Linked DNA regions of Homo sapiens: regions 1 and 2 are each linked to region 3. Evidence: fine-mapped expression QTL. A gene starts in region 3. Each other region holds a variant in brackets. All regions are shown on one strand. Distances are between the middles of the regions.

Region 1 (7,783 bases), 27 kb before region 3:
GGGCCAGCATTTGGCCAAGCTCGGAGGCTTGGCCAGCACTGCTGGATGGCTCAGAGCAAGCTGGGCTCCCCGTCTGTAAGATGGCAAAAATGCTGCCCCCCTCACAGGGTGACCATGAGGACCAGTCACAGTGATGTGTGAAAGGGCTCGCTGGTCACAGAAACGTGTACAAATCATGCTATTTTAGAGATCAGCCCTCAATTTGTAAGGCATGTGAACAGGGCACGCGGTGGGCTGGTGGTTTCATAGCCGACACACAGCGCCTACCATGTGCAGCTGCCTGTCCGACCCCATCTTACAGACGAGAAAACCAGCACACAGGCACCAAGGAACTGTCCGGAACTAACAGCAGGGGCCGGCGATGGGAGTCAAACCCAGGCACGCGGCCTGGCCTGCATGCTGAGCCACATGGTGCTGTCCGGACAGATGGACAGACACTCGGTGGAGTCTGCCTTTCTCAGGCCCTAAATCCCTCTCCAAAGGGTACTTGCGATGCCGGATTTAAAACTTGCTCAGAGCCACTTAGCCACTTGAGAACCAGACAGTAAGGTGTTACTCCCAGGTTTGTTTTTCCAAAGTAACAGATGACATGTGGAATAAAGTAATAGAGTAACAAGTGGCAGGGCCAGAACCAGGGTCCCCAAAGTCCTGGTGTTGGCACATTTGTACTTCTTGTAAGACCATCTTTAATTTTTCTGGGAACACACCTGCCTTTTGTGTAATGCGGGGAAGACTAATGCATGGTGACACCTAGTTTTCCTCAACAGGACACTTGATCCCAAAACCCCTTTAAGACCTTAGGTTTCCTCAGCGGAAAACTGTACTTTAATCCCAAACCCCCTTTAAGACATATTGGGGCTGGGCGCAGTGGCTCACGCCTGTAATCCCAGCACTTTGGGAGGCTGAGATGGGTGGATCACCTGAGATCAGGAGTTCAAGACCAGCCTGACTAACATGCTGAAACCCCATGTCTACTAAAGATAGAAAAATTAGCTGGACATGGTGGCAGGCACCTGTAATCCCAGCTACTCGGAAGGCTGAGGAAGGAGAATCACTTGAACCTAGTAGGCAGAGGTTGCAGTGAGCCGAGATCACGCCATTGCATTCTAGCCTGGGCAACGAGAGCGAAACTCTGTCTCAAAAAAAAAAAAAAAAAAAAAAAAAAAAAAAAAAAAAAAGATACATTGGTCTTTAAACCCAAACCCCCTTTAAGGCATGTTGGTCTCAAGGGGATTTGGGATTGAAGCACAGCTTTCTGTTGAGGAAACCTAGGTGTCACTTTTTAGAACATTAAAAAGAAAGTTGTAGGGTGGGCTTTTCCATTTAAAGGAATGTGATGATCCTAGGTTCTGATGAGTGATAGGTGGTCTCCGTTTATACCCTTTCTTCTTTTGGCACCTGTAAGTTCCGGTAGTGGCCATCTTACATTCTCATGTCCTGCTGGAAGTGCCTAGTTGCCTGCAAAGCCAGCTAAGGCTTATTATTTCAAAAGAAGATTATTTAAAACATGAGTGACAGGTAGTCAGAAGAGAACAAAAGGACGCAAGATACTCTATAGCCAAGTCAGCTTGGAGGCAGGATGGGTTGCTGAGTGAAGTCGCCGCTCACTTTTGGATTCTTATGGACTGTGAGTTAGTCTTCCCTCTACACGGAGTCACAGGAAGGGTATAAATGCATGTTCCTGAGGTGCCCTCCCCCAAAGAATGTACCTGCACTCAAACCAGGATCTGTTTTTGCTGTTTTAATCATAAATAGACTAGTTAGTAGAAGACTTTTGAAGAACAAAGTAAAACTTTTTTTTTTCATTAAAAGATGTCCCAGAGGAAAGGCCCTGTGCAGCCAGTATATTCTAATGACTGCCTGGACCATGTCCTAATATGGTGGTTTTAAGTTGTTGGCCAAAATCCTTTAAAGACATACGAAACATCTGCCAACTTTTTAGCGAACTTAACAGGTTTCACTGACGTTTTCCTCAATTTTTGAATTTAGGTGGGATTTGCTTTCATGTCCTGTTTCAAAAACCAAGTGTCTCTTGACAGCCCACTGGTTCTTCCTGTCCTCTTGCTCTAGTCTGTATCAGAAAGCAGAATGACTGTACTTTTGTTTTACAAACAACCACCTGATAGGACGGACACTCCACGAGATAAGGAAAGGCACGTGCCCTTGAGCTTGAATGGAAGCAGCCTCTGGAGGGGGCAGCCACTGCCCTTCGAGGGAGAGCAGCTCTTCAGCAGTGGCCAGAGTGCCACGTGACTCTGCAGATGACCCCTGGGAGCCGGGTGATGGGCACCTGCTGGGGCTTTTGTTTTTTCTTTTTCACTGGCTGGCTTGATCCTCAGTGGCAAAAGGACCCCTGAGCCCCTTCTCCGAGCCCTGGAGCACTCCTCGGGACACCGAGTGGCCTCAGGGCTGGGTTCAGAGCTCCTCCCGCAGGGGGAGCCTCAGAAGTGGAGGCAGCTGCTGATGGGTGAGTTTACAACTTCTTATCCTGCCTAAGGCGAGTAGGCGTTTTTATTCCGTTTCCAGTCCTTGAGCTCAGCAGATCAAAATAACAGTGACCCTGCAACCCCACAGAGCCCGCGACACGCTCGCTTTCTTCCCCGCCCTGCCCCTTTAGTCCCCGCTCTGGAAGGCCAGGCAGTTTAGGTGTAAATAGGTATCTTTTATGGTTTCCAAATGAATTATTTGTGTGAGAGTAATTAAATCTGTAAGAAAACCTGTTGAGATTCTTCACTATGAATTATGACTTCTACAACATGTATTTTAGCAAAAACACGATGCTGGCCTCCACTGGATAGCTCAGTATGCTGATTGCCAGTGATAGTTCTGTACGCGTTACCAACAGCGTCTTTATTAACCCTCT[T/C]CCACATCCAGTGGAAATCATTGCTAGGCGGTATTTGTTGGTTGGCTGTTAGCTTTGCTTTATGATTTCATGTTTCTTTTAAAGGTTGTTTTGCATGTTGAATATTAAATTTTTTTTTTCTGTGTCTTCCTCTAATCTTTTTCTGTAATGGGAATTTCAGGGTAAATACAGATATTATAGCAAAGCAATAATTTAATGATTGAAACTTAATTTGCCCCCAGTGATTCCTGAAACTTTTTTTGGAGCTTTCACACAAACTACTTTTTTGAACTAGAGTGTGTTGGAGGCAGAGAAAAATCACCCTGTGTGCTGGCTTTGCCTGCCGTGAGCCAGTGAGGAGTCCGAGAAGAGGTGGGCAGGTCAGTGATGGGTTTGGCCAGAGATGCCATATTTGCAGTATTAAATCATTTCAAGATGCATTTCAAGGCCTGGCACGGCTCACGCCTGTAATCCCAGTGCTTTGGGAGGCCGAGGCGGGCAGATCACTTGAGGTCAGGAGTTCGAGACCAGCCTGGCCAACATATGGTGAAACCCCCATCTCTACTAAAAATACAAAAATTAACCGGGCGTGGTGATGTGCACCTGTAGTCTCAGCTACTTGGGAGGCTGAGGCAGGAGAATCGCTTCAACCCAGGAGGCAGAGGTTGCAGTGAGCCAAGCTCATACTACTGCGCTCCAGCCTGGGTGACAGAGACTCCATCTCAAAAAAAAAAAAAAAAAAAAAAAAAAATGCATTTCAAGTTAAGCTTTTAGCCTCCACAAAGTAGTGCACACCCTTTCAGTTGTACTATAAAATTTCCCAGGCTTTTTCAGAGAACCTCTTAACCCTCACAGAAATGGAAAAAATGGAATAGAGGCCAGGAGCCCCAAGTTCAGGTTTTGCAGGCTCCAGGTAAGCTGGCTGATCTAACGGAAGATGAGGTGTTTGCAGCAGGCGTCTGTCTTGCAGCTCAGCAGGTGAGGGGACCTCGAGCAGGCTCTCGCATTTTCCGGCTGATCCTTCCGAGTCTGCTACTGCAGGGCCCTCGTAGGTGGGAGCAGCCTCATCGTCGCCTTTCACACTGTGAGCTTTTCCTTTCCACGGTCAGATGGACTTAGTGAGTTACCAGCGATGGATGTTAAGACCTAAGACACCGCAGAAAGTTACAGAGTGGAAAATGAGGGGCAGAGAAAAGAGGGTCTGAGAGGAACGCAAGCATTCCGGAATACAGTAAGGGACATCCCATCAATGACACTTCTTGGGAACAGCCACTGCCTTAGAAACACCAGACCAAGAGAATTTTCTGACCACAACCCCAAAGGCAGCCCATGAAGATGGAGGTTAGGAAGGAGGCGGTCTAGCAGGTGAAGACTTCCTTGCCATCCAGGTCAACCCCCTTCTTGTTGAACAGTGGGAAGTCCTTTTAAAGCAGTCACCTGAAAAATGTTTAATAGAAATTTGGGGAGAGTCTCTATCTTGGAAGCTGCCTGCGGGAACCTCATTCCTATTCATTGCCTCCTCTTGGAAGGCTAATCTGCTATTTCGGTTCCTTTAGCCTTAGATGAGCTTTTAGGAAGTACTGTCATGCCCTAGCTTAGAAGGAAAAAAGGTAACTGGAAAGGAAAACCTTTGGGAATCTTACACTGGGAGGAGAGGGGAATGTAACTCAATCCATATAATAACACAGTTCATTGTAAATAGACATGTTGACTGTGGTAACATGCTGTACTTTGTGCCTGATTGTTAAAATGCTAAGAACAGCTGGAAAATTTACATGAGGAAGAGAAAATACTTGTTTCTGGGGATAAAGAAAGGATCATGTTGTCTTTTCTTTCCTTACAGTGTCACTGAATTGCCCCTGACTTAGCCTCTCCATCAGCCAACAGGTTAGAGAGTTCTTTCCTCTGTGTGGACTGGGGTCTTTCCTCTTGGAATCTGATTTTAATGAAACAATTAGGTTGCTCATTTTGAAATAACCATGGCTTTTAGCCAAATTTTATGCTACTCTGAATAAACAATTTTGCTTAAAAGATTTTAGCCACTTCCAGAAGCCAGTGCAGTTGAGTAATTTAGTGGGCACGTATATCTCACTTAACGTGGCACGCTGGGGAGAGGTGTGTGGGGCTGGGACCTCAAGCTGCACCACCTCAGACACACTTAACCCTGGGCCTGGGTTTTCTCAAGTAGAATCACCACTTTCCTTCCTGGGACGCGACGATGTTGAAGTGAGACAAGGTTACGTCCAAAGGCTGGCATAGTTGCTGGCAACGCTGATCACTACTGCCATTTCTTCCCGGCGTGTGCAAGGGGTATTTCACGGGCCATCTTTGGAGTCATCGGGAGTGCATGTGCCAGCGGTTCCCAAATGTGAGCATGCCTCAGGATCACCTAATGCACGCTCTAACCCAACGTTCAAACCCAGAAGACCGGTGAGGAAAATACTTTGGATCAGTGATGACGGCTGCACCACTGTGAGTATACTAAAAGCCACTGAATCATGTACTTTAAAGGGGTGCAGTTTATATGAATTCTATCTCAATTTTTAAAAATGGGCTCCAACCTGAGGCGCTGATTCAGTAGCCTAGTTGGGGCCCATGGGTTAGCCTTTTGTGGGGGGGTGGATGGGCACGGACAGGGTCTTGCTGTCACCCAGATTGGAGTACAGTGGCGCAACCACGGCTTACTACAGCCTGGATCTCCTGGGCTTAAGCGATTCCTTCCACCACCATGCCCAGCTAATTAAAAAAAAAAAATTTTTTTTTTTTCTAAAGACAGGGTCTTGCTGTGTTGCCCAGGTTGGTCTCTAACTCTGGGCTCAGCAATCTTCCCACCTCAGCCTCCCAAAGTGCTGCAATTACAGGCGTGAGCTACCTCGCCCAGCCGGGTTTGATTTTTTTTTGTTTTTTTGAGATAGGGTCTTGCTTTGTCACCCAGGCTGGAGTACAGTGGCATGATCACTGCTCACTCCCTGGAGCCTCCACCTCCTGGGATCAAACCATCCTCCCACCTCAGCCTCCCAAGTAGCTGGGACTACAGGTGCATGCCATCATGCCTGGCTACATTTTGTATTCTTTGTACAGCCAGGGTTTTTGCTATGTTGCATGTTGGGGACCAGCCTCAACACCACCCGTAGGGTACCCGAAGTCTGGTGGCGACAAAGGATTGAGAAGAGACAGGTTAAGAGTGAAGGTGGGAGCCAGGGGGCCAGTTGCAAAATGTGGAGGCTGCAAAAGGCTTAGAGCTCTGGTCTCCACACTATTGAGTCCAATCACTTAGATTTAAGCAGATGTTCGGGGCGAAACAGTGGAAGGGCGGCGGCGCGTCACAGGCATCATCTACGGCAACAGCGGTTTCAACGAACCTCCTCTGTGCTGCTCAAACAGCGTATCTTTATCGGAGAGTAGCTGGTGGGAGCGGGCTTAACTCGGAGCCTGCACGTCTGTCCGCATTCCAGTGTTTCAAAGGAGTGTCTCTCTCCTTGAACACAGTGTTTACAGATACGAGAGCAGGTCTCACTCTGAGCATGGGAACATGATGGCAATTAGGAGGCTCTCCTCCTCAGAGACCTCTTGTGGCTTTCCACAACTTAGTGTCCTGTATTTTTATGGCCAGTTTATACAGGCACCCCACAAGCCCTTTTCCCAACAGTTGCACAGGCTGGTCTCAAACTCCTGGGCTCAAGCGATCCACCCACCTCGGCCTCCCAAAGTGTTAGGATTACAGGCGTGGGCCACTGGGCCCGGCCGGGCTTGCATTTCCATCAACTTCTTATGTGTCAGTCCCAGGACCACTCTGAGAACCCAGGTTCTAGCCCAGCCATGCAGCTGAGTATCTAAACAGGGCTGCTGCGGCTCAGGTGCAATCTTCCTCTTCAGATGACATTCTCTTAGTGTCATTTAGTTTCTATTAGATGTTAACGGTTCAGGAAAATACTTTGATGGATAACTTAAATCTTTGCAATATTATTTTTTTAAACCAGAAAATACCCCTTATAAACCAAATAAATGCTGAGTAACATAGGAAAGGTTAAAAAATAAGTCTCAAAGGTTTGCTTTGAGGACTAACCAAGGTAATACATATAAAGCACCTAGCCAATGCTTTGCACACTAGCCCATTAAGGATCAATTGTTCCCATTCCAATCTGTTAAGATTTTAATCCAACAGAAACCCTTGGTCTGAATGGTTTAAAAGTAGTCTCGGCCCCCAACAAGGAGTCTGATAATAAACTGGTCTCTCACTCACCTCCAAGCTGACCTTCCTGTTGTTCAAGGAAGTTTCCGGTTGCAGCTTCTGCGTTGATTCTTCTTCCTCAGGTCTGTCTGACTTGTATTAATGCCAAGTGCATCACAGAGGAACATAAGACTCACACATTGGGATTTTGTTTACTTTTCATTTATTCACATTTCATGGATTGTTACACTTCCTCGATGGGAGCATTCAAAAACTAATACAAGCTGAGATTATATTGTCTGACAATTCAAGTATTTTAGTTTTAGAAAACAATTTCCTATTTAAAGTAAAAAGCAAACAATTTATCCATCTGATTGCTAAGAAGTTTTACATCTCCATTACAATTGTGTCTGCATCAAACGGAGAGTCCTTCGTCCTCAGTATGATTGTTACTGGCTGAGAACATACGGTGACCTGTGTTCTGAGTGCCTGCTTGGAAAAGACCTCCCTGTCATCTGCCATACTACGGGACAAATCAGTATCTACTCAAATTCCCACTTCCAGAATGAGAGGACTCATCAGGGGTTTAGGAGTTTGCAAAGCCTTCAAAATGTATCGTGCTTGAATTTTGACTCTTCTGAAATAGAATAACTGACAAATGCTCAAAAAACAAACTTGTTTAACTTTTACTGAAAAGGCTCTCAGTGAAAACTTGTTTTGAACTCTACTAGTAAGGTAGAATATTAGTTTTTCTTCCCCTCCACACCAGA
Region 2 (8,005 bases), 58 kb after region 3:
AAACCTGCCCGTGGATGTTTATAGAAGTTGTATTTGTAATTGCCGAAACTTGGATTGACCTTGGTCTTGTTGGTCTGCACTGTGGTCCTTCCTCCATCCCATCCCATTTCCTCCCCTTGCCTTTCACATTAATTATGCTGTAGGTTTTCCGTCGGTATTTAGGGGTTAGGTTGGACCTTTTAGATTTCAGGTAGAGACAAAAAGACTGAAGGTTACCAGCCAGTCTGTTGTTTTCCACCTGTCCAACAGTTGGTTGGGTTTGCTGCATAATTGATCCGTTGACTTCTATGGTGATTGGCTGCAGGATGGAACCAGCCAGACCATGAGCAACACAGGCATGCCACTAGGAAGGCCTCAGAGAAATCGCCTGTGTCTGTGAAGATGAGAAGCAGATATTGGCCAGGCGTGGTGGCTCACGCCTGTAATCCCAGCACTTTGGGAGGCCGAGGCAGGCGGATCACCTGAGGTTGGGAGTTCAAGACCAGCCTGACCAACATGGAGAAACCCCTTCTCTACTAAAAATACAGAATTAGCTGGGCGTAGTGGCACACACCTGTCTGTAGTGCCAGCTACTCGAGAGGTTGAGGCAGAAGAATTGCTTGAACCTGGGAGGCGGAGGTTGCGGTGAGCTGAGATTGTGCCATTCCATGCCAGCCTGGGCAACAAGAGTGAAACTCCATCTCAAAAAAAAAAAAAAAAAAAGCAGATACTGATCTGGACCAATGAATTTCCAGAGTGGCACAGCATGAGGGAGTCTCTATCTTCCTTCCTCAGGGACCTGCGGAGCTTCTGGCTCTTGGATCAGCTGTAGGACTTTCACCAATATTTCTGCATGGGAATGTCCATGTGGTCTTGACACTAATGGGATACCATCAAGTATCCCAGGAAGCACCCACACCCACCCACGGGTAAGGAATGCCCAGAAACTGAAGTCAGTACATTGGGACTGGGGTATGGCTTAAACCCTTTGTACTATGAAGCAGAATACATTGAATAATAGGAGATTAGAGCTGGAGGAAGTCGTAGAAATAAAGTATTAGAATAATCTCATGTTGTAGATGATGCCTTTAGCCTGGATGGATTAAGTAACTTGTTAAAATCCATAGTGCCGGTTAATGGAGAATTCTAACAAGAACTAAGAATGATACGTGTTTGTGCATATGTGATCAAGCTAGAAAAAATATATGATGAGACCTTTTTTTTTTTTGAGACAGAATCTTGCTCTGTTGCCCAGGCTGGAGTGCAGTGGTGTGTTCATGGCTCACTGCATTCTTGACCTCCTGGGCCCAAGCGCTCCTCCCACCTCAGCCTCTGGAGTAGCTGGGACTACAGGTGCCCACCACACCCAGCTAATTAAAAAAAATTTTTAGAGATAGGGTCTTTCTATAGTGCCCAGACTGGTCTTGAACTCCTGGCCTCAAGTGATCCTCCCACCTCCGCCTCCCAAAGTGCTGGGATTACAGGCATGAGCCATCACACCCAGGCTGCTGAGATGATTTTTGAATAGTATCCCAGCTTTTAAAAATGTATATTTTTAAGAATTTGATAAAATGATAAAATTTCACCAACAGTCACTCAACAACTAGCAACTATTTGTTAATGGTCTACTCTGTGCCTGCTACTGCTTTGGGTGCCAGAGGTACAACAGGAATGGAGATGAGGTTTCTGGCCTCCTGAAGTTTCCATTCTCATCACAGGAGAACCACAGTCATCAATCATAACAAGCTCATGTCAGACGATGATAAGCATCACAAAGGTAATAAAATATGATCAGCTCTCGGTTCTTTCATTCACCTGACGAGTGTTTATTGAGCTTGGACTGTTTCTTGGGCACTGCCTTGGACCCTGGTGAAATGGTGGGGACAAGACAGAACAGGTGCCCGTGCTCAGGTGCCCATGCTCATGCAGATTTGCTTCTGGTTGGGAGTGATGCAACGACGCACAAGTAGAAACAACCACTGTGGAGGAAGCTGCTATGTGGGAAGGAATGGAGGGAGTGGTGTGATGGAGCAAGCAGGGATCGGCAGATGGAGGGGGTTATGTGGTGTGGACGGGTGGAGTGGGCAGATAGAGTGCTTCTTTTTAAGAAAAATTTTAAATATATAATAAAAAAATAGACATTGGGTCTTGCTATGTTGACCAGGCTGGTCTCAAACTCCTGTCCTAAAGCAATCCTCCCATCTTGGCCTCTCAAAGCACTAGGATTACAGGCATGAGCCACCGCACCCAGCCGAGCTTCGAGTGCTTCTAACAGCAGGTGCAAAGGCCCTGGGGTGGGAAAGGGCTTGGCAGCTTTGGTGAAAAGGAGGCCAGCATGGCTGCAACCTGGTGAGTGAGGGAGAGAGGGGAAGGAGATGTGGGCGCCAGATCATGCAGACCCTCATGCGCTGGTGAAGGGTTTTGATTTTATCCTGAGAGCAGTTGTCCAGGGGGCCCTGGAGAATGTAAGGAAGGAGAACGTCAAGGTATGATGTTTGTCTTTAAAAGATTGCAGGCCGCTGTGCGGGAAACGGGGCGGCTGTCGTGGGTGAGACTGGAAGCTGCCACAGGGTCAGGAGGTCCTAAGAGCAATCCAGGCAAGATATGGTGGTGGCCTGGACCCGGGAGTGGACCGTGGACGTGGTGAGCAGTTGACACATGGGGCAGATATTCTGAATGTTCTTCCTGGTGTTGCTGACATTTCCAGCTCAGCCCCTGCCCTACAGCCATAAGAGCTTGGAGGTGGGACACTTGCCCATGGCATCTGAGTCATCTGGGATGGAACTGGAGAGGAGGACCCCTGAGCCACCTTGGCTGCAGCCCTATGCTCTGAGGAGACAGAGCAGCCTCTCCTGACAGGTGACAGCTGGGTTTCCAGGATGAAGTTGAGGAGCAGTGGCCGGGGATAAACATAGGCTACCTGGGGTTGACACCCACCCCAGTCTTCCCTTCCTTTGCTCCCTACTAGCCTCCAGCATGCTCATGACCATGCAGCCTCCCTGGCTCCATCAGCTCAGGCTGTTACGACAAAAATACCACAGACTGGGTGGCTTCAACAACTGACATTTATTTCTCGCAGTTCTCAAGCCTGGGAAATCCAAGAGCAGGGTGCTGGCAGATTTGGCATCTGGGGAGGGCTCCCTTCCTGGTTTGCAGATGGCCGTCTTCTGGCTGTGTCCTCATGGGGTGGAAAGAGCTGGATAACTCCCTGGAGTCTTTTTTCTAAGGACGCTATTCCACTCATGAGGGTTCCACCCTCGTGGCCTAATCATCTCCCAAAGACCCCACCCCTAATACCATCACATTGAGGATTAGGGCTTCAACAGAGGAATTAGAGGGGGGCACACACATTCAGTCCTTGGCATCCTCTAACCTCACATGGAGCACAGACCCAGGAGCAGAAGGCATGGGCTGCAGGCTCCACATTAACCCCAGCTGCCTTCATGTCTCAGGGGTAAGCTGGAGTACATTCATGGTAGAATGGCCAACATAGTGAATGAATTCAGAAGCCAAAACCTGGCAAGTATCACAGGCTGGTTCATCCATTCGCATTTTTGCTCAGCAAATACTAATTGAACATTCATAGCATGCTGAATGCTGACGGGTGCTGGGGTTGATGGTGAACAGGACCCAGGTCCTGCTGCCCAGCTGTCCAGAGGGCAGTAGAGACCATGGCCAGTCCCTGTGATCAGTGCTCTGATATGGAGGTGGGGGGACCCTGGAGGGGAACCCCACCGAGCTTTGGAGTCAGGGAGGCTTCCGAGGAAGTGGCACTTACTCTGCGTTGGAAGAATGGGAAGAATGGGAAGGAAGGAGGTCTTTCTTCTCCTGTGATCACCCATTCAACACCAGGGCCCTTCAGTTCTCGCTCCCAAATGCCTCTCGTCTCTCTCCTTCCCTCTTAGGGCCCACTGCTACCCCTTGCTTCAGACCCTCATTGTTTCTTGCCCGGGTTACTGCAGCGGTCCTGCCTCCCGCCTCCCAGTCCTTTTGCTTCCTCACCGTCTATGTTATCTCTCAAATAAAATATACAGAACAACATCTGATCACATCCATCCTCTTGGTCCAACCCTTCGCGTAGGATAAGTTCTGCTTGTTTTCCTTCTAGTACTTTACTAGTTCAACTTTTAAATCTACCTACAATTTGTTTTTACTATTTTAAATAACAACTTTATTGAGCGATAATTCACATACCATAACACTCACCCTTTTATACATACAATCCAGTGTATACAGTTTTACAGATACAGTTCCATTTTCGTGTATTCAGGGTTCTATAGTTATCACCCCCATCTGAACGTTTTCCTCAGCCCCCAAAGAAACTTCACGCCCATTGACAGTCACCCCTCCTCCTGCCTCCACTCCAGCCCCAAGCAAACACAAATCTACTTTTCATCTCTTCGGATTTGCCTATTTGGGACATTTTGTATAAATGGTCTTCTGTGACTGGCTCCTTCCACTTAGCATCTTGTGTTCATGATTCATCCATGGTGTGGCGTGTATTAGTACCTCATTCCTTTTTATTGCCAAATAACATTCCAACGTGTGGCTAGACCACAACTTGTCTGTCCACTGCTGAGCTGCTGGATGCTGACATTTGGACTCTTGGGCTCTTATGAGTAACGCTCC[C/T]GTGACCATCCCTGTTCGGGTGTTCTGGTGCACACATCTCCAGTTCTCCTGGGAGGATAACACTTTCGAACGATTCGTTTTCTTTTCCTCTCCTCAATTCCCTTTGTTTGCTCTTCCTCCTACTCAAGCAACTATGCAGTCTGGCAGCACTGTCGCAAATGGATACCTTGTTTCTCTCACTGCCTCCCATAGGGTGGGGCTTGGTTTCGATTTGTCACTTGATGTTTACTTTGATCACTTGACAACAGTGGTGTCTGCCAGCATCTCTCTTATAGAGTCATTCCTTTTTTTTTTTTTTTTTTTTTTTTGAGACGGAGTCTGGCTCTGTCGCCTAGACTAGAGTACAGTGGCACGATCTAGACTCACTGCAACCTCTGCCCCCCAGGTTCAAGTGATTCTTGTGGCTCAGCCTCCCCTGTAGCTAGGATTACAGGCGTGTGCCACCACACCTGGATAATTTTTATTAGAGATGGGCTTTTTACCATGTTGGCCTGGCTGGTCTCGAACTCCTGACCTCAAGTGATCCACCCACCTCGGCCTCCCAAAGTGCTGAAATTATAGGCGTAAGCCACCATGCCCGGCCAAAGTCATTCTTTTTTCATGTTCTCTGCCATTTTGTGGGTAGGTACTTTGAAATTCTGCAAATATCTCCATTCCTCACCAAATTCTCAGTGCATTCATTTATTTTTTATATCTGTATGGATTCCTGGTTTCCTGTTATATTCAATGGAGTATAATTTTTTGTGACTATAATTTATTTTTATGTTCAGATTGTCCTAGATTTGGCCAGTGGTCACCTTTCCAAAGCAGCTTCTTGGTTTTTGACGCGTTCTTATTATTCTTTGAGCACTCCCTTCCTCTCTAAAGTCCCTCTCCACATGGTCTCTCATCTTGACCCCAAATTCTGGGTTCAAAGAGGACAGAGTGTTCATCAAGCGTGTGTGGTGTGCATGTGTGTGTGTGTGTGTGTGCGCGCGCATGTGCGTGCGTGAGTGCATGTGTGTGTGAGTGCATGCATGCATGAGTGCGTGTGTGTGTTTAACGCGCTGCTGGACCTCTGGCTAAAGCAAGTCACGTGGCTCAGGCCAGTGTCCACATGGGCAGGGCCACAGAGGGACCCAGGTGGCCTGATCCACTGGGGCCACTAGTCCTACATCTCACCATGCCATTGTTGACAGAGGTGTAGACAAAAAGAAAAAATTTTCTCCTATAAAAATACAAGCCCCCCAAAATTTTACAAATGCCAGCTGAAACCCAGCCTCAGCGTTGGAGAGAAAATAGGGAGTTGCAGGGAACTGACAGAGAATGAAAGGCTCCAAGCCAAGGTGGCAGCCCCTGTGTAGCCCCTGCTCATTGTTCTAGGTAGGACGTAGGACCTAGACCCAGTGTTGCCAGATCTTCCGATTTTTTTTTTCAGAGAAACTGAAACTCTTTAGAGTTTTAGATGAAATTCAGATATTAAAGTATGGGCTCAAATGTTTAATCCTATGGGAGGCAACAGAGCCCACTGGGGCTGGCATGCGGCTGGCAGGCCACTGCTGGCTCCCTCTGGTTGAGGCTTCCGGCATCTGCACTTCCAGGCAGAGCCGGCCCTACACAGCCCCAGAAGGCTTCCGTTGCAAGGGGGCAGAAATCCCACCCACGCTGGGTCTGAAATAGGAGGAAAGTTATCACTCAGTAAATGGTAACTGAAAGGGGCTGGGGCTTTACAGCAGAATCGGAATTGGGAATTTTTTTTTTTTTTTTTTTTTTTTGCGACGGAGTTCCGCTCTGTCACCCAGACTGGAGTGCAGTGGTGCTCTTGGCTCACTGCAGCCTCCACCTCCCGGGTTCAAGCGATTCTGCTGCGTCAGCCTCCTGAGTAGCTGAGATTACAGGCACCTGCCACCACGCCTGGCTAACTTTTGTATTTTTTTTTTTTTTTTAGTAGAGAGACAGGGTTTCACCATGTTGGCCTGGGTGGTCTCGAACTCCTGACCTCAGGTGAGCCGACTGCCTTGGCCTTAGTCAAGGCCAGCACTTTGGGATTGCAGGTGTGAGCCACCTCGCCCAGCCAAATTTTTTTTTTTTTTTTCAGAGGCTGGGGCTGGCTTTGGCTATGCTGATGTCATGGCTCAAGTGACATCCCCAGGCCTCAGTTTCTCCATCTCTTTGCTCTGTTTTCTCATTAGCTGGCTTCATTCTCAGACAGACTTACTCTGTGCAACATGGCAGCTCCCGGCTTCCATGACCCTCGGTGCTTGAGTGCCCCAAAGGAGAGAAATTCCCTTTCCCCAAGTGTTCAGCTCTGCCAGGCTGCCATCCCCTCCCCACCCCATCGGGCACTACATCTGTGCTTTGGGGGCTGCTCAGGAGCCTGCCTGACCTGGGGGAAGCAGGGACATCCACGCCGAATTACACAGAGCAGGACAGCAGCAGGCAGCAAAGGAAAGGGGAAGGAACCCGAGCAGGGAGAAGCAACAAGTGTCAATTAATCATAGGAGGTGAGGCCAGCTTTTGCCTGCAGTCAAGGGACATGAATATTGAGACTCTAGGTCAGCAAGTGACTTGTTTTAGCTCTTACCTATAGGACAAGAACTTAAGAATCTCTTCTGCTTCTCCACTCTGTGCTCTTTTTCCTGCATCTTTTTTGAGATAGAGTCTTGCTCTGTTGCTCCCCAACCCCCATCTTTTTTGAGATAGAGTCTTGCTCTGTTGCTCAGGCTGGGGTGCAGTGGTGCAATCTCAGCTCACTGCAGTCTCGACCTCCTGGGCTCGAGCTATCTTCCCACCTCAGCCTCCTGAGTAGCTAAGACTACAGGTGCATGCCACCATTCCCAGCTAATCTAAAACAATTTTTTTTTTTTGTAGAGACAGGGATCTCACTATGTTGCCCAGGCTGTTCTTGAACTCCTGGGCTCAAGCGATCCTCCTGCCTTGGCCTCTCAAAGCATCAGAATTACAGCCACTGTCCCTGGCCCCTGCACTTTTTACTAAAATCTCTTGATGTTGTGAAGTAAGTCCCTGTCCTGATGGGACTTGGCCATGGCATTCCCTAGGCATTAATTTTGTTGCTAGAACTTGGACACATGGTCAGAGTGGAATCTTGAGACTTTTTTCTTTGTAAGATCTTATATTATTATTATTACTTGCATATTCATTGTAGAAAATTTTAGAAAATACTAAAACTCATAATCCAGTCTCTGAAAGGTAGCCACGGCCAACAGGTTGGCATATTTCTTTCTTTATACCTGGGTACGCTGGTGCTCTATGTACAATTGTGTACCTGCTTTCTAAACTAGAAAATCTCAAGCTCCTCAAGTTGGTAGCGTGATGATTGGCCTGGGACTCCTGAAGTTCCAGCCTCAGGACAGGACAGGACCTGTCCCTGGGACCATGTCCGCTAGCAAGGGGCACA
Region 3 (8,005 bases):
ACATTGGTGCTGTTAGGCTCCCAGTGTTACAAATCAATAAAGGCTTTTTCCAGGAGGCAGAAGAAGATTCCTAGGGAACACCAGCAGTCCTGAACAACACTAAACCGACTCCATTTGGAAAAATTAAAATGAAATATCAATTGATTTTTTAAAAATCTGGAATCTGAAGTACTGTATATATAATCAAAAAGTCCTTAACTTATTCTACGCATATACATACTGAAAGTCTTGTCATAAAGAAAATAATTTTAATATTTAAAATTCTCTTAAAGATGACCCATTAAAGAAGTGTATCTTTCAGTAAGAATACGAATAACGGGCTGGAAACGCCTCCACAACACGAATACTGTTCTTTAAGCTACAGCCGACAGAGATACATGGTTCCCAAGACTGAACATTTTGTTGCTTCAAATTGTATATTGCCAAGACAATTAGAAGTCCAAAATGATTAACATGGGTGTGTTAGTATTCTGGGAACTTATAACCTTTCAAAAACAAATCATTGGCTTAACTCTTCAATACGATGGCATTAGTGGAAGGGGCAGGAGTTGGGGAACGGCGTGAACTCTGCAGTGGATTCCGGCACCTAACCAAAGAGGGTGCTCCTGTCCATCCCTTAAAATTTACGATTTGTTTTCTGATCTTAATATCATAACAACAAAACAAAGAAAACCCACAACCCAGAGCTCCGCTATGAGTGTTGTGCTGCCTTCTTCACTAACTCTCCAGCTGGACAAAAAACCTTTCCATTTCCCCTGCTACCCACCTCGCCCAAAAACTTACTGATTAGTTTTGGGGACCTGCCAGGTCTTGTTAAACCTGCCTGAACTCCTTCGTGATACTCTCCCCACTCTTGTTTGCTCTCAACACCACAATACACCAGAGTAAGCTTCCTTATTCTGGTGTATTGTGTAATACAGAGTGTATTACAACCCCACAAAGTGGTCGCTAAGATATGAGGTGACATATCACTCTTTAGTATCTAAAAGTAAAATGCAAATGCTGGTATTCCAAAGGCCTCTACAATTTGATGGCCAGTGGAGTAATTACATACGGGCTGTCAGCTTTTAATACATTTTAGTGATTTTTAAATTTTGTAAGTTTATGCTATTTTTCTGATTACAAATGATATTAAAGTCCAAGATTCTAAAATATAAAGGATGAGAAATAAATACACTTTCCATTCGCTGGGAACCCTCTCTTTTTAATGTCCACCCAAAAACACTTGGTTAAGTTTTGCCATTAATCTTTGTCATACAAACAAAAACAAATACAGGAATAGACATAATTCTTTACTGTGCAGAAACCAGGTCTCTGTACGGATTCTTTTTGGCAATTTTCCTACTCATTAACTAATGTCTCCACCAGAGGGTTGGAGAAGTAAGAAGTCACCAACGGTCACGTTTGCTATTTAAGATTAACTGTGGGGCCAGCGAAGTGCCTCACGCCTGTAATCCCAGCACTTTGGGAGGCCAAGGTGGGCAGATCACTTGAGGTCAGGAGTTTGAGACCAGCCTGGCCAACATGGTGAAACCCCGTCTCTACTAAAAATAAAAAAATTAGCTGGGCGTGGTGGTGGCACCTGTAATCCCAGCTACTCCGGAGGCTGAGGCAGGAGAATCTCTTGAACCCAGGAGGTGGAGGTTGCAGTGAGCTGAGATCGCGCCAATGCACTCCAGCCTATGTGACAGAGCAAGACTCCATCTCAAAAAAAAAAAAAAAAAAAAAAGAAAAAGAAAAAAAAATTAGCTGTGGAGAAAAAAGGGATGGAGCTGAATACACAAAAACTGTAATAGTAAAATTGTAACTTCTAACTCATACCCACAATGAAGAGACAGGTGACGCAGTAAAATAGTCTAAATAAATGTAGGGGCTTCCACGTCCTAACATACTCACCAAATCAGTATATAACCAAAACGCAGGGATCTTTGTTTTGTTTACAGATATACTCCAAATGCCCCAACAGTGCCCAGCTCAAACAGCAGGTGTCCTGTCTGTCATTAGATCAGTGAGCTGGGGAAGTATTTCCCCAGTGAGCATAAAGTATTTCAAAAAATACTAAAAGATGCTGGCATCCCAGTTTTGCCATTTTCTAGCTGTGAGAACTTGGGCAAGTTATATTTAATTTTTGTGCCTCAGTTTCTTCATCTGTGGAACAGGAAGTATTAAGAAAGTTAAGATAAACAAAGACTGGCTTAGAACAGTGCCTGGAGCAGAGGAAGGGCTTAATAAATTATTAAAGAAACAAGTTTTATTAGAAGCAAAGGCTATAAACTATCATTTTCCCTCCAAAACGTAAAAGTTGTAGCATGGAAGAAGAATAACTTGGATTACAAACCAGATTTTTACAAATATTTTACCAAATCCCTATTTTATTTCAAAGCATGACACTTCAGACAATACATTTTACTTTTATGCTAGAAGTGGGGGGGAGAAAAAACCCTCTGTAAAATATTCAGAACAAGGCCTGGCACCTGGAGTCTTATGTCTAGCTACTGTTATGAAGAACTTAAGGGAGGCGGAAGGATCTCTTGAAGCCAGGAGTTGGAAACCAACTTGGTCTCTACGAAAATAAAGATGGACATAGATTAGATGAATAGAAATAAAAAATTAGCCGAGCGTAGTGGCGCACGCCTGTGGTCCCAGCTACTTGGAAAGCTGAGGCAGGAGAATCACTTGAGCCCAGGAGCTTCAGGCTACACAGTGAGCTACCACTACACTGAGGCCTGGTGACAAAGCAAGACCCAGTCTCAATCAAACAATCAATAAAAGGGAATTTAAAAAACGTTTGCGTTTGTGGGTAAAAAACCAAATTAGACATGATTTCTAGGTATGAAGCAACGTGGTGGGAGACTGAAAGTCTAGGTAAACTGGAAAAAAACATTATTTGTGCCTGATATAGTTATGTGGTCTCTGGCATCTGGTGTAGCTCTGCCCTTGGAAAGCTCAACTTGTCAACATCACCTTAAAACGAAAACACAGATTTGGCTACACTTAATAGTGAAGTGCCTTGTTGGAGGAAAACAACAAGGGGGCCAAGTAAGGAGACAGAAATACCTAATCTCCAAGCTGGTTCTTAATGGAACCGAGCAAATGGGTGATGAATAACCCGGGAACGCAGTAAGACAGGCCAGAGAGGTAATGCGCCCAAGAGAAGAGAGACGAGGGGCGGCCAGGGGGAGAGGAAGCTCGAGAGGAATCGCTAGGAAGGAAACGGAGAAGACCACGCCAGGACAGCCCTGCCAGCCCCCTACCTCCGGCGGGGCCGCAGGGGAGAGTCTCACTCGAGTCGGACGCCGCAGCCCGGTGGGGCCCGGGCCCCGCTTCAAAAACAGCCGGGGCTGCGTCGCCGCTGTCATCCCACCCCACCCTCCACCCGTCGCTCCCCCACCGCGCGCCCCGCCCGGCCCGTGCGCCCGACCCAGGCTCCCTCCCTAGAGTCCCGACCTCTAGCCCTGTACCCCACTTCCCAGGGTCCCGTCCTCCAGCCCCTTAAGCCCCTCCCCAGGGTCTGGTCCCCCGGCCCCGCACCCCTCCCCAGGGGCCCGTCCCCCGGCGCTGAACCCGCACCTCCCTCCCCAGGGTCCAGTCCCCAGCCCTGCACTCGCACTCCCCTCCCAGGCCCGAGCCCGCTCCCGCCCTCCCGGCCCTGGGCTCTCAGCACCAGGCTCCCGCCCTCAGCCTCTTCTCCTCCCGCGCCCGCCGCCGCTCCTCACCTCCTCGGCGGCCGCCGCTGCACTCGCTGGGTCTTGGTTGCGGCGAAACCCGGGGCGCAGCGGCGCAGGGGTCTGGAGCCCGCAGGGGTCGCCGGGCTGAGCGCGCTCGGCCGCTTCCGGTGCTGCGCTGCGGAACTCAGAGGACTTAGTGCTCGGCAAGCCCAGAGACTCAAACACCATATCCCTGGGGGGGCTCCTCACGCTGTGTTCGGCAGGGAGGCGAGAGCGCCGGTTCAGCCAGAGACAGCTGGGGGAACCGCGCCGAACACGCTCCGGGCGGCCATTTTGTAACTCGAATCTACCCCCAAAACCAATTCGAAAAAAAGGGAGGAAAGAAACGCCCGCGTTCAGCTACTGCGCAAGCGCGCCGGCGCTTCCGGCAGTAGCACCTCCTTCCGCCGGCCGGGCCCCTTACGCGGCGCATGCGCCCAGCTCCCTGGAAACCGGCGCGGGGCTGAGAATGCCGGTCTCGCGCAAGCGCGCACGCGCCGACCTTGATCTCGTAGCCGGCGCCAGCAGCCGCGCTTTGGGGCGTCGGCTCACGTGGGGCCGGCAACGCGTCTTCCAGGATGTTCGCGCGCTAGTCGCCGCTGAGGGGCCGGCGATGCGCGAGGAGTTCCGGCGAGGAAGGTCGGTCAGTGGACATGGCCGAGGCCCGCGGTGTCCGCGTGTGGGAGCTGCAGGGCTGAGGAGAGGCCGCCCGCAACCCTCGGGAATCGTGTGAGGTGCCACTGGGGTCGCTTCACATCAGGAGGCCCCGTCTCGGGGGACGCGCGCAGGTGACCCTGCTGGTCGTACCTGGCCGGGGTGGCCCGGAGGGGCTGGGTCTCGGCGCCAGGAGGGGCCGTGTGGGCCGCCTGTTAAAGGACCCCTCGTTCGCTGACATTTGATTTTGCATTGGGTGCCTTCTCTTCTGTTTTTTTCAGCCAGTGAGATCCGTCCTGGGCACTCAGCTGTAGAGCAGGGGAACGAGTCCTGCGCTTTTTGCGCTGAGGTCTCCTGGCCCGTAGGCCAGGCAGCCTCTGAGCTCCTTTCTCACCAGCAGCTTGCGATCCCTCATCCCTGGCCCTGTCACTCCCAGCTGTTTCCAGTGCCGCCCTTTTTTTTTTTTTTTTTTTGAGATGGAGAGTTTAACTTGTTCGCCCAGGCTGGAGTGAAGTGGCACGATCTTGGCCTACTGCAACCTCTGCCTCCCGGATTCAAGCGATTCTCCTGCCTCAGCCTCCCGAGTAGTTGGGATTACAGTCGTGCGCCACCACGCCCGGCTAATGTTTATATTTTTAGTAGAGACGGGTTTTCACCATATTGGTCAGGCTGGTCTCGAACTCGTGACCTCAGGTGATTCCCTCCCCCCGCCCCACCACCTCAGCCTCCCAAAGTGCTGGGATTACAGGCCTGAGCCACCGTTCCCGGCCTCGAGCGCCTTCTTATAAACTGGATGGTGGTTTTTGTTTTCACCTTCAAAGTCGAATCTCCCTAGTCCGTTTATTACCAGAAAGAGGTCTCCACTCAGACCCAGCGAGAGGCTTCTTGGATGTCGCGTAGGAAAGAATTCGGGGCGAGTCCACGGACTAAAGTGAAAGCAAGTGTATTAGAGAAGTGAGAAAGCAAAAGAATGGCAGAGCAGGGCATTCCTGAAAGCGGGAGGAGGAAGGCGCCCGCCTTAGGTACAGTGCTTGTTCAAATCTAAGGTAACACAGCCAAAGAAATCTTGGGGGACATGGGCTCTACCACGAGGGCCCACGACCAAGGTTTCATGCGCGTCCGTGTGAAGAGACCACCAAACAGGATTTGTGTGAGCAACATGGCTGTTTATTTCACCTGGGTGCAGGCGGGCTGAGTCCAAAAAGACAGTCAGCGAAGGGAGATAGGGGTGGGGCCGTTTTATAGGATTTGGGAAGGTAATGGAAAATTACAGTCAAAGGGGGTTGTTCTCTGGTGGGCAGGGGTGGGGGGTCACAAGGTGCTCAGTGGGGGAGCTTCTGAGCCAGGAGAAGGAAATTCACAGGGTTAATCACTTAGTTAAGGTTGGGCAGGAACAAATCACGATGGTGGAATGTCATCAGTTAAGGTGGGGCAGGGCCTTTTCACTTCTTTTGTGATTCTTCAGTTACTTCAGGCCATCTGGGCGTATACGTACAAGTCACAGGGGATGCGATGGCTTGGCTTGGGCTCAGAGGCCTGACACAAGGATTGTTCATCTTTGTTTACTGACTTTGGCAAAGATCTATATTATCTTTAAAGCGAAACCTAAATGAAGAATGCTTTTGATCTTAAGATATTGTTAGGTTTTGAAGGGAAGACGAGAGTTAAAGAATGACACACAGGTCGGGCGCTGTGGCTCACGCCTGTAATCCCAGCACTTTGGGAGGCCGAGGCGGGTGCATCACCTGAGGTCAGGAGTGGGAGACCAGCCCGACCAACATGGTGAAACCTCATCTCTACTAAAAATACAAAAATTAGCGGGGCGTGGTGGCACATGCCTGTAATCTCAGCTACTTGGGAGGCTGAAGCAGGAGAATCACTTGAACCCGCGAGGCAGAGGTTGCAGCGAGCCAAAATCACGCCATTGCACTCCAGGCTGGGTAATACAGTGAGACTGCGTCTCAAAAAAAAAAAAAAAAAAAAAAAAAAACAAAGGGCAGCTCAACAGCAACACAGGTATATGGCAAAAACCTACAGAGATGGGGGATCAGCTTAATGCCAGAGCCCACTGCTGCTTACAGGCTGGGGTACTTATAGGGCAGGAGGGGAATGGGCAGTATGGCTTGCCATGTGAATATACTTACCAGTATATCTATCCATAAAACGTTCTATGATCAGGCAGTTTGGCCCTTGTTCCCTCAGAAAGTGACAGTGATGTTCCTTGCACCTTTGCTGAGCAAGGTTTGATAGGGATGTTCCTTCAATTGGGCCTTTACCCAACAGGGTTTGGTAAGAAAGTTGGGCAGGAAATTTCTCACGGCCTGAACCCCCGTGGAATGTTTCGCTTTGACCAGTGTCTGCGAAATGGCGGGGGGCTTAGAAAATGGTGCAGTTTGGCAGGGCGTGGTGGCTCACGCCTGTAATCCCAGCACTTTGGGAGGCTGAGGCGGGTGGATCACAAGGTCAAGAGATCGAGACCATCCTGGCCAACATGGTGAAACCCTATCTCTACTAAAAATACAAAAAATTAGCCGGGCGTGGTAGCGGGTGCCTGTAGTCCCAGCTACTCAGGAGGCTGAGGCAGGAGAATGGCGTGAACCCAGGAGGCGGAGCTTGCAGTGAGCTGAGATTGCCCCACTGCACTCCCGCCTGGGCAACAGAGCGAGACTCCATCTCAAAAAAAAAAAAAAAAGAAAGAAAGAAAATGGTGCAGTTTGGACTAACAGATACAGCGACATCAAAATGTTTCCTGGGTCTGTTAAGTCCTGGGTTTGTTTAGTGAACGTTATTAATCTGTTCCTGTAACCCTAAACATCTTGTGACTACTAAGAATGCAGCCAACAGGTCTCTGCCTGATTTTACCTACTGCCTCTTCAAGATGGAATTGCTCTGGTTCCAATGCCTCTGACAAACTGGCTGCTTGATCTCTAGGTTGTGACCATGTCAGGGATAGAGGCAGCTTAGGTAGAGGTAGACTTTCTTGTACTCAACATTGAATTGTGGCTTAGTTAAAATCAGAACTTTCATTCTTGGAATAATACAGTATTGTAAGGGTAAGCCAAATGATTAACACATTTACTTAATTACACATTGTAGCATTGAAATAACTGATGCCTTTCTAATGCAAATAAAAAAGATTTATGTATATGATAGCACTGTAGCTGTCTTGCGCCTTACTGGATGGATTTCATTGCTGGCTAAAATGACAACTTTAAACTGGCTATAACTCAGAAGAATGGAGGCACTTTGCACGCAGACATCTACCTCCATTGAATTTGGCTACTTCCTTTTAATGAAGCTCAAGTCTCATGTTATGAAATACTCCTCCAAAGGTGTTAGCCCTTTTTTCCTATACTCTGCCTTTCAAAAATCCCTTTCAATTTGCTTAACCCCTGAGAGCCAAAGGACTGTGATGGTTGTTAGGCTGGGTCATTGTCATCATGTTCAGTAAATAAATACCCAGACATGTCAGTTTACCTACTTTACCTGATTCCAAATGAGTCCATGGTGATGTGATCCTGCCTTTCTTTCTGCTGTTAGAGGTCCATGCCAGGAGCCAGCTTTGTATCAGTTTTGCCACAGTGATCAGGTCATAAATGTCTCAGATCATTCAAGCCCAGTTTAACCTAGCAAAGAAAATGGCA

Alleles and levels. Positions count from the first base shown, and alleles are read on the strand shown. Sizes are in standard deviations (SD) of each study's normalised expression.
With allele T in place of C in region 1, the expression in lymphoblastoid cells of the gene that starts at base 4,088 in region 3 is higher (small effect, 0.21 SD a copy in TwinsUK).
For the expression in fibroblasts of the gene that starts at base 4,088 in region 3, C is the high allele of the variant in region 2 and T is the other (moderate effect, 0.63 SD a copy in GTEx).

What was found. PIP is the estimated chance that this variant, and not a neighbour inherited with it, causes the effect.
Region 1: its variant is fine-mapped to the expression of NUP50 in lymphoblastoid cells (TwinsUK, PIP 0.95).
Region 2: its variant is fine-mapped to the expression of NUP50 in fibroblasts (GTEx, PIP above 0.99).

Annotation. Positions count from the first base shown.
Region 1 is chr22:45,187,448-45,195,230 of GRCh38, reverse strand. It overlaps KIAA0930, which reads left to right. Exons shown (of 10, transcript NM_001009880.2): 10 at 1-2,987. It overlaps LOC105373064 (a long non-coding RNA gene), which reads left to right and starts at 3,619. Exons shown (of 4, transcript NR_146602.1): 1 at 3,619-4,207; 2 at 4,686-4,729; 3 at 5,031-5,314. NUP50 (nucleoporin 50) reads right to left here. Exons shown (of 8, transcript NM_007172.4): 8 at 7,214-7,783. RefSeq lists an enhancer at 3,862-4,362. The variant T/C (reference allele first, on the strand shown) is at 2,864.
Region 2 is chr22:45,102,147-45,110,151 of GRCh38, reverse strand. No RefSeq gene overlaps it. Among named protein-coding and RNA genes, the nearest start is that of NUP50-DT, 58 kb to the left of the region's middle. The variant C/T (reference allele first, on the strand shown) is at 4,609.
Region 3 is chr22:45,160,008-45,168,012 of GRCh38, reverse strand. It overlaps NUP50 (nucleoporin 50), which reads right to left and starts at 4,088. Exons shown (of 8, transcript NM_007172.4): 1 at 3,717-4,088. NUP50-DT (NUP50 divergent transcript) reads left to right here and starts at 4,232. Exons shown (of 3, transcript NR_038956.1): 1 at 4,232-4,436. RefSeq lists silencers at 3,317-3,496, 3,527-3,756, 4,527-4,576 and an enhancer at 3,637-4,159.